2 separate regions of the Homo sapiens genome follow, and region 1 is linked to region 2. A link means that fine-mapping ties the variant in region 2 to the expression of a gene that starts in the linked region. Tissue or cell type: monocytes after interferon gamma. Region 2 holds a variant in brackets; the other region holds the start of a gene. All regions are shown on one strand. Distances are between the middles of the regions.

Evidence for each region. PIP is the estimated chance that this variant, and not a neighbour inherited with it, causes the effect.
Region 1: it holds the start of IL1RN, and the variant in region 2 is fine-mapped to the expression of IL1RN in monocytes after interferon gamma (Fairfax 2014, PIP 0.93).

Annotation. Positions count from the first base shown.
Region 1 is chr2:113,125,431-113,130,430 of GRCh38, reverse strand. It overlaps IL1RN (interleukin 1 receptor antagonist), which reads right to left and starts at 2,833. Exons shown (of 4, transcript NM_173842.3): 1 at 2,691-2,833; 2 at 767-855. The coding sequence starts at 2,806.
Region 2 is chr2:113,869,925-113,875,752 of GRCh38, reverse strand. The region is part of intron 1 of ACTR3-AS1 (ACTR3 antisense RNA 1); the gene reads left to right. Among named protein-coding and RNA genes, the nearest start is that of ACTR3, 17 kb to the left of the region's middle. The variant G/TAAATAAATAAAG (reference allele first, on the strand shown) is at 2,859.

The DNA.
Region 1 (5,000 bases), 740 kb after region 2:
CTCTCTCCCTAAGAGGCCTCCATGCTCTCATGTAGCAACAAAAATCTCAGCTTCCTCGTGCTTCAGTGTGTTCATTAGGAGAACTACCAGGACAGGAATTGTAGGTCTCATCCACTTTCAGAGCGAGGCACAGGAGACAGAACCAGGGCATAGGGAAGGTGGGAAGGTGGAGGTAATACCATCCTACAACAACAAACAGGGGAGTGAAAACATCCTGGAAGGCTGGAACTAAAAGAATCGCACATCCTGTTGTCCAGTTGATATCATCCCACTGAAGGGAAAGCTGAGGAACAGAGTGGGTGAAGCTTCTTCAAGGTCATCCAGCTTGTTTAATGTGTGGACCAGAATATGGCTGAGTATGGTGTCCAGGAATAAGAGACATAGCTCAACCTTATACATGGTGGATTAATTTGGGATTGAGTTAGGGTTTGAACAACATAGGAACATGGAGCCTTAATAGGCACTTGAGGAAGGGAATGGTCAACCTTGCCTTCTGGTATTTGCCCTTCCCAGCTGTGGCCCTGGGACCACTGTGCCTATAGGCACTGACCTCTGACCTAGACTCTACCTCTCCACACCCTCTTCAGGCTGCCCTCATATGTGCCCTTCAGTAGCCAGGCCCTCCCAGCTTCAAACTTGAATACAAAGACCCAACAAGGATTAGGACATTGCACCTAGGGTTTGTGCAGGCAGGCCATGCTGCTGCAGACAGACGGGCAAAGTGACGTGATGCCCACATACATTGGCTTTCCTGGCAACCACTCACCTTCTAAATTGACATTTGGTCCTTGCAAGTATCCAGCAACTAGTTGGTTGTTCCTCAGATAGAAGGTCTTCTGGTTAACATCCCAGATTCTGAAAAGGAAAAGGACTCAGCTGTAGTGCACAGCCACCATGTGCCCAGCCTTGTGCTTGGCACCTTCCTGTGTCCCCCAGAACTTGTCAAATTTGCATCCAGCTCTTCCAGGGGTATAGTATTTTAGTATACCCACGGCATGCATGGATGAGAAGACTGAGGCTGACAATGGTTAAGAGGCAGGCCCAACCCTCACAGCTGGTGAGCAGTGAGCCCACATTTGACTCCCCTCCTTACTTGCTTCCCATCTGAGATTCCCAGGGAAGGCACTTCTGTTTCAGCAAAGCATGCTGTAGAGCAGCAACATCCAAAAGAACTTTCTGGGATGCAAAAATGTTCTGTAGCTGCACTGCCCAATAGGGTGGCCACTAACCACATGTGGCTATTGACCTCTTTAAATGTGGATAGTGTGACCAAGGGTCTGGATTTTAAATTTTCTTCTATTTTCATTCATTTAAGTATAAATTTAAATAGCCACCTGAGACTAGTGGCTACCATAGCACCTAGGTAGAAGTTTCAAGAGACGGAACACCTTGCAGCTAACTCGCTCTGAGTCTGAGACCAGAAGGGTCTTTCCCTAGAGCCTTTCCTCCATTAGCTGGTGACCTGCTCAGAGTCCTGCAGGAGCAGCTACCCTTGGGAACAACCCGGCTTCCTCTCTACCTCAGCCAGTGACCTGATTCTGGGTCCCAATCCTTTCTTCTTGGTAAAGGGCCTCTCTGGTTGAGAGCAGGACTCAAAGCTGTGAGACGTAATAAACAGAGCTCTGGCCAGCCTGACCTGGGACCTGTGCCTCACCTCTTCACCTGTGAAGTGTGGCTAACTGTACCCACCTCATCAGGTGGCTCTGAAGAGCCCACATGCTCGACGAGGGGTGGCCAGGCAAACCAAAGTGCTTTGCATATGGCAGCATTGGCCTGTTTGTGATTATCCTAGTTTCTAGATTTAGCCTCAGTCTGGAGGGATAAACATCACCTGCTGGGGCCTCCAGGAGGATCTCCTGGAGCTTCTAGCTGATCAGAGCAGGGAGAGGCAACCTAGGGAAGCAGACAGTCCCCATATCTGGAAGGGAGAGACTTGTCACTCATACACCCACAGAGCCCGACTTGCAGCCTCGGCCCAGACAAACATAAAGGTCAGAGTGGGGGAGAAGTCACCCCAACATGATTTCACTGCTGGAATGTCACACTGCAGAGGGCATGCACAAGCAGTCCTGTCATTTCTATCAGCATCACATCTTTACAATAGTGATGGTCTCACAAAGCCGATTCCATTTTCAAATCATAATGGTTTTCAGGCTCTTTACAATGCACGGAATACTGTTACGCTATTATCTGTGCATTTAATTTTCACAACAACCCTGTAAGGCACACAAGGAGTTATCGTGACTCTCATGTCACAGATGTCACAGACGGGGAAACCAAGGTCCCTGGAGAGTGGGACCCTCCGACATGTCAGCACAGACAGGCCTTGCCCATATCAGTCTGGGCCTTCGGGCTGTGCCCCTGGTGCCCCTCTCTGCTTCTCTGTCAGCACATTCAACTAGGCCTGAATCGCAGTCCCACTCCTTGGCATGCATCTATTACTCACTGGGTTCCTGAGTCTCTGGGAAAGTAAGACAGCCCTCCGGTCGCACTATCCACATCTGGGATATTTTGAAACACAAGTCCTGAAGCCCATGCATGTAACAGCCTCTTTCTTGAATAATGGACATCCTCTCCAGCCCAAACCCAGTTCTCAGGCCCTCTGGGGCCTGGCAGCCCCTGGCAGCTGTGATATGTTTCCAGTCTCCAGCTGATCCACCCTCACCTTCTCCTCCTTGGGGTAGCCTTACCTGAAGGCTTGCATCTTGCTGGATTTTCTCCCAGAGGGTCGGCAGATCGTCTCTGAATGGAACAGGAAGAGGAGGAGAGTGATTAGGTGACTGCGGAGGCCTCTGCAGATTTCCATTCTGTGACTGCAGCAAGGCAGTGGACTGCCATTGCGGGCCCAGAGTTGTGGTTTATAAAGAAATAGTCACTCACCCAAGCTAGGCGTCTGCCACCCTGCCCCACTGCGAGAAGCGGAAATACCCTCCTCGCATTTCCAAAAAGAGAAACCCTTGCTGTTGTCACTTTCAACCCCACTAAGTGTCGCAATGGAGTGTTGTAACTGATTCCCTCCCCTTTTTCCCCTGTGCAATTTCCCCAAAATTAAGATTTCTATTTCCCCTTCATTGAGTTCCTGGGAAGAAGAGCACAATGGAAACCAAACTCCCTACTGTTCCTGACAGGTACCCAGAGTCTGTTTGTTGACTTTTTAAAAAACAGATTTGAGCAGAAAGGCCGTTTTTTCATAATAAAATGATAGGGCTCCCTGCACATGGGACAGTCTCATGTCACTTTGTGTTCTTTGAAAAATGGACAGCCTTGGACTCCGGACCATAGATTGGCAAACATTCTGTAAAGGACGAGATAGTAAATATTTTAGGTTTTGTGCGCCACGATTACTCAGCTCAGCTGTCTGTTTCACAAAAGGACGTTGGCAATCCATAAATCAATAAGCCTAGCTGTGTTCCACTACAACTTTCTTTGCAAAAGCGGGGAATGGACCGGATTTGGCCTGAGTCTGCTGACCCCTGATGTAAAGTGAGTCCTTCTGAGAGGTGCTTTGAAATCAACTCTTTTCCCACTATCTTACATCTTTAAAGTTATGGTCTCGGGACGATGACATAAACTCAGCATTTGGACAGGAATGGGTCTAAATTCAACCTCTGCCACTTGCCTTGTGCCACCCGTGTGACCTTGAACAAATCATTTCATTAGTTGAGCCTCTGTCTCTTCACTCTCAGAATGAGGGTGATCATGTCTTCTTCACAAATGGATGGAAGGAAGGAAGGGAAAGAGGGAGGGAGGGAGGGAGGAAGCAGGTGTAGGAAGGAAGAGGAGAACTTCTGGCCCATAATGGGCTCTGATACACATTAACTTCCTTACTTACAATATTCTAGACCCGGGGCCTGGAACATTAGGAAAAAGGTAAGCATGCTCCTATTTTATGGGTAGGAAAAAGTTGAAGAGAATTTCTGCATGATCTACAGGATGGACAGTGCTGGTGCAGAAGCATACGTTGCAGTGTTTTAGAGCTGGACGGGAGCTTGGCAATCATCCTGTCCCAACCTGGCATTGTTTTCAAGAAGACTCAGAAAGATTTAGACAAAAAAGGGATCTGTCCAAGGTCACACAGCTTGCTGATGGCAAAAGTATGCAGAGAAATCCAGGTCTTCTGACCTCCAGCCCCGGGCTTTATTAACAAATGCTTCAGAAACTTTAAACCCTAATATTCATCACACTCTGGGAAGAGGCAAATAAGTAGGCAGGTTAATATACATCACCCCCTTCAGCTAGTCCTCACAAAAACAAACAAATAAACAAAAAAAATGTCTCCTTGGCCCTCAAAGGAAGACACTATTTCTCAAACGTGTTTCAAAAATGATGGCTGGGCTGGGCACGGTGGCTCACACCTGTAATCCCAGCACTTGGGGAGGCTGAGGTGGGCGGATCACCTGAGGTCAGGAGTTCAAGACCAACCTGACCAACATGGTGAAACTCCGTCTCTACTGAAAATGCAAAAATTAGCAGGGATGGTGGCATGTGCCTGTAATCCCAGCTACTCGGGAGGCTGAGGCAGGAGGATCACTTGAACCCAGGAGATGGAGGTCGCAGTGAGCCAAGATCACGCCACCGCACTCCAGCCTAGGCAACAGAGTAAGACTCCATCTCCAAAACAAAAACAAACAAAAAAGTATGAATGACTCACTCAAGGTGATGCAGCTTGTGAGGGCAGCACAGGAATACAGACAAAATGTCAAAATATTTACTACTACAGCAGTTGATCTTGATGAGTCTATTTTCAACCAACAAATCAGAATCTTTCTCTCAACCAACACATCTTCCAACCAACAAATCAGAATCAAACACTTTGTGTCCAGAGAGTTAATCCTTCAAAGGAGGAAGACTATGAATGAATTTCCCAAAGGTTTAAAGAATGTATCCTTCAGAGGAAATAGAACATTTCTGCAAAATTGTGTCACCTCCCTGGGTGATGGATTTTTTCAGGCAAAATGGCATGTCTGTATTCCTGTACTGTCCTCATAAACAGTGTGACC
Region 2 (5,828 bases):
GTGGATCACCTGAGGTCAGGAGTTTGAGGCCAGCCCGGCCAACACGGAGAAACCCTGTCTCTACTAAAATTACAAAAAATTAGCTGGGCGTGGTGATGCGTGCCTGTAATCCCAGCTACTTGGGAGGCTGAGTCAGGAGAGTCGCTTGAACCCAGGAGGCAGAGGTTGCAGTGAGCTGAGATTGCACCATTGCACTCCAGCCTGGGCAACAAGAGCAAAACTCTGTCTCAAAATAAACAAATAAATAAAAAATAAAGTGTTATTATCATGTCTAAAGTATCTATTTGTCTTTTTCACATATGATGCTACATGGAATAAATTAGAGAAGCTTTACTCAAGCCCCAAAGTAGTCACTACCATGAATGATAAGTAATATAAGGAAGAAAATGTAAGACAAGTTTCTTCACTGTGTATGTGGTTTCATTCTGTTCGTGGATTGGATGATTCCTCTTTCATTAACTTTTCCATTTTCTTTGCCTTTCTTGCAGATAAGTGCCCTCTGTGTACCAAAAAGGAATGTACTGTTTATAGAGACTTCAAATCAGCAGAAAATTCAAATAGTTATAACTTTTCTTTATAATCCATCATGAAAAAGAGTAACGACAAGTAAGCAAACTAATATCAGCTATTTCAATAGTTTCTTTTCCTTTTTTTTCTTTTTGAGACAGAGTCTCGACAGGATGGAGTGCAGTGGTGCAATCTCAGCTCACTGCAACCTCCGCTTCCCGGGTTCAAGCGATTCTCCTGCCTCAGCCTCCTGAATAGGTGGGACTACAGGTGCATGCCACCATGCCCAGCTAATTTTTGTATTTTTAGTAGAGATGGGGTTTCACCATGTTGACCAAGATGGTCTCCATCTCTTGACTCGTGATCCGCCCACCTCGACCTCCCAAAGTGCTGGGATTACAGGCGTGAGCCACCGCGCCCGACCTTTTTTTTTTCTTTTTTTAATAAGTTTTTGTTCTGTCACCCAGACTGGAATGCAGTGGTGTAGTTGTCGCTCACTGCAGCCTCTAACTCCTGGGCTCAAGGGATCCTCCTGCCTCAGCCACCCCAAGTGCTGGGATTACAGGCGTGAGACACTGCACCTGGCCTAAATACAATTTCCAAGCAGATATGACTGTTAACTTACTTTGTTGAACCAAAAAAAACGTAGCTAAGATATTGGCAAAAACTAAGAAAACATCTTTTTTGGATTCTCATGTCTACATTTCAGCCTATTATTTGGAATGAATTCCTACATGTGCATAATGAATTGTACCACTCTAAGCCTATTGACTCTTTGTTACTTCACTGTGTGTGTTTCCTGGATATGGCTGAATTATCCTGAAAACCTATAATTTCCTGTTTCCCTGATCTCCAGGAGACTATTTTATGCTTCTCTACTAATATTTATGATGTGTATATGTTAGTCTCCTGTATTGACTCCACTCCTGTTTATGACCCTCTTCCTGTATACAATACCCGTCATACCTCATTGACCTTGCCCATCCCCTAGTTGTGGCTTCTCTGACCTGCCTTCATCTTTTGCTACCCCAAATCCCGTATAACATACTGTGTGCTAGGCTTAATGTGCTGGTCATTTGCCTGCTTGCTCTCAGATTCATTATTTTTGTCCTTCTCTTACTCTGTCTATGTCACAGGAAGCTGATTCCTGCCAACTGCATTTCCTGGGCTCATTTAACCATGCCCAGAAGGAATTAGGACAATGAAAGATAAAAAGATAAAGGAGCCAACATATCCTCTCCCCTTTGATTCAGACGACTTCTCCACCATCACCTTCTTCACAATGGCCACTTTTCCTCTGCAGTTGGGGTTCTTCTTCCCCAGCAATGGCTCCAGGACTCTGTTAACTCAGCTCCTCCCCAGTTCTAGAGGTAGACGGTAGAGGCTTCCTGCTATTGTTACTCTGGGGTTCCCCTTCTTCTCCAGTTTGGCTTTCCAGCCCTTCCAACTCCTTTGTAACTAGTTCCTGGTATCAAATTCACTTAACTGAACTACCTGACTTCGGCCCTGATGTTTGAGTGGACCCCATCTCACACACTGAGGTTGACAATACTTGGCAAGTTGTTAGGCGAAGAGCAAAACAATAATCATAATCATAGAAGCATTCATGTAGGTATTGCAAGGCTCACATCTCCAAAATGTCCAGTGGAGACATGAAATAATGAATATGTTACATAGTGACAGTCATTTAAAATTTTTCAAAAGCCACTTTCATTTTGTTCTTTTCTTCATTCTTTAGTAATCCCCCATCAATAGAGAAACTATGGGGGAAAGGAGCAGAGTATACAAAGAATGATGCCCACAGTGAGCCCAAAATAGCTCCAAGTGGATTTGCCTGCACGAAAGAAAGATGTAATCAGCACCCAGAGTAGGTAGCGAAACAGTCAACACTGCTGTTCCTCTCAAGACCCCTGCTGCTCTCCCACCAGAAACGTAGTCGCTCTCTGCATTAATTTGATCTTCCCATGACGTGAAAGCATCAATTATAAGTTGTACGATAAGTCAAGCTTATTATATGTAAGAGTCCAGGCCAGGCGCAGTGGCTCACGCCTGTAATCCCAGCACTTTGGGAGGCCAAGGCGGGTGGATCACAAGGTCAGGACCTCGAGACCATCCTGGCTAACATGGTGAAACCCTGTCTCTACTAAACAAAATACAAAAAATTAGCCGGGCGTGGTGGCGGGTGCCTGTAGTCCCAGCTACTTGGGAGGCTGAGGCAGGAGAATGGCGTCAACCCGGGAGGCAGGGCTTGCAGTGAGCTCAGATCACGCCACTGCACTCCAGCCTGGGCGACAAAGCAAGACTCTGTCTCAAAAAAATTAAATAAATAAATAAATAAATAAATAAATAAA[G/TAAATAAATAAAG]AGTCCAGGGCAGTTGTCAGTGGCCTAAATGACTAAGGAGTGACCCATCTTTTGAGAGAAGCTTTGAAAAATCAGACTTTTGTGCTCTGTAAAGGGTTTTGTGGTTTTATGACCTTGGGCAAGATCCAGTTCATCATTTCTAGCTTCTGAACAAATCTTTTTTCTGGATTTTTGAAATGGAACAGAACTACAAGCCACAAAGGGGATCCGTTTTATTATTTAAATGAAATAAATGCATGGAAATTCATGGTTCCAGTGAGGAACCATGCATTTGCTAAGACTGCTGTAACAAAGTACCATACACTGGATGATGGCTTAATGAGAGAAGCTCATTGACCCCAGCTCTGGAGGCTAGAAGTCTGAAATCGAGGTGTCAGGAGAGTTGGTTCTTTCAGGGGACTGTGAAGGAGAATCTGTTCCATGTGGCTCTCCCAGCTTCTGGTGGTTTGCTGGCAATCTTTGGCATTCCTAGGCTTCTGCTACATCATTCCAATCTCTGACTTCACCTTCACTAGCACTCTCCCTATGTGTGTGTCTGTATCTGTGGTTAAATTTCCCCTTTTTTGTAAGGATACCAGTCGTATTGAATTAGGACCCACTATAGTGATCTCATTTTAACTTGCTTACCTCTGTAAATATCGAATCTCCAAATAAGGCCACATTCTGAGGTACTGGGGATTACGACTCCAACATATCTTTTTGCGGGGAGGAGAACACAGCTCAGGCCATAACGAGCCATTTGTAGAGATTAGCTCACTATCTGTTTCTGACTCTTCTTTCCATACCTGCCTACCCATTTCTCTCCACACTGTCTCTTGACAGAACCTGTGGTCTGGAAAACATCTGGTCAACTTAGTCACACTGAGGAGTAAGTGGCCAAAGCTGCCTTTGTCTATCTGTAGTATACAGTGGTTCAAAAGGATAAAAATAATGATAGGAAACTGTTAAATTTTATATGTTATCCCTCCTCGAAATACTGCATTTTAACAAATCACAAAGAATTATACCCATTTCTCACTATAAGTCACAAAACTTGGAGTTATGAGTAAAAACTTGCTAAGCAACCCTTGATTTTCATTGTAATTAACAGAAAAACTGCATTGTCTATTAACAGAAAGATAAAATTGAGTCTCAGATTGGTGATACAATGATACGCACTCATAAGTCTCTACTTAAGATGACCATAAACCAGGTGCAGTGGTTCATGCCTGTAATTTCAGCACTTTGGGAGGCCAAAGTAGGAGGATTGCTTGAGCCCAGAAGTTTGAGACCAGCCTGGAAAACATAGTAAGACCCTGTCTCTATAAAACATAAAAAAATGAGCTGGGTGTGGTGATGCCTGTGTGGGGGCCCTAGTTACTGGGGAGGCTACAGTAGGAGAGCCTGGGAGATCCAGGCTGCAGTAAACCGTGATCAAGCCGCTGTAATCCAGCCTAGGCGACAGAGTGAGACTCTATCTAAAAAAAAAAAAAATCTATTACTATAAATTTCTTCTTTACCAGCAGTAAAAGATATAAGCATTCCTGAAGGAGCTGCAAACATAGCTACTGACATATCATCAGTATTGTTTCATAAGTGGTTCAGAGGCTATGAAATTAGCAATGCATTTAAACCACTTGAGCCAACCATGACTTCCTCAGCGGTCCAGCCCCTCCAAAAATGCACGCAGGAGCCTTTTCTGTACCAAATAAAAGATTAATTTTTTAATCTCAAGAATGTGGGATGTGATAGGATAGCTATCATATTTTTAAAAAACTTAAATGGACTCTAAGAACTAAAAACCATGATGGAAAACTTCACTTCAGGTATTATGATCTAAAACATAGTCAATTCTCATTATTCATGGTAGTTATAGTTTATAAAGTTGCTGTAAACATTGAATTAGTGAATAATGAACCATTGCTCTTAAGGGAAATACAGGGTTAGGTTTCTGCAAGCTTCTGGTTATAACATTTTTGCCAACCAAACATATAACCTTGTTTTATGTGTGTTTCTGTTTAAAGACACTTTAGCATATATTGTTGATTTGTTAACATTGAACTCACAGCTAATAGCGCCATAACTCATGCTTGAGTGAAACTGATCCAACACACGTATTTTCTCCATAAGGCACATCATAGCCTTCTTGTGCTTAAGAACCCTACGCAGCACTTAGCACTACACTTGTTGGCCATTTTAAACAGCAAAATCACCACCAAAAAGAACGAAAGTGTGAAAAACATGGTACTAAATAAACAGAAAAAGGACACACATATAGTAAGAAAGCTGAAGTGGGAAGGCAGAGTGTTGCTTTGTTGAAATTCAGCTGGGAATGTGTGCAATCAACAACTCAATTTTTTTTTCTTTTCTGCACATGTCTGCCAATGATCACAAAAGTGCTGTGGGTATTGATTCGGGAGTTATAAATAACTTTTAATGAGTAGGAGAATTTGCAGATATGAAAGCCATGAGAAATGAGGTTTGACTGTACGTCTCCCTGGCTTCTGTTGCCCATAAGCCAAAAATATATATTTTTTAAAAAAACAGGGCTTTTTTTGCCTAGCAAAGTGGGTTACATTTACACTCCATATTTGTAATTTGTCATGTGAGACCTCAAAGGATGTTGGATAACTGTAATTAATGTCCAAGCCCTGCTGCTGATTATCTGAGTGAACTTGGTCAAAGGGACTGGTTTTCCATGGGTCTCCTCTTATTATTCATAAACTGATAGTCTTGGACTACTATACACACACACACACACACACACACACACAAATATACACAAATTATCATAAAACTTTTTAAATCCAACACTCATATCCAACACTCACATTTTAAAATACTCAAAAATCAGGAAAATATATAAGGAATAGTACTCTAGACAGTGATATGATAGGAAATTTTTTACTGTATTTCCTTTTATACCTTTTGGTTTTTGAACTATGAAAATGTATTACCTTTTTAGAAATTATTATTATTATTATTATTTAT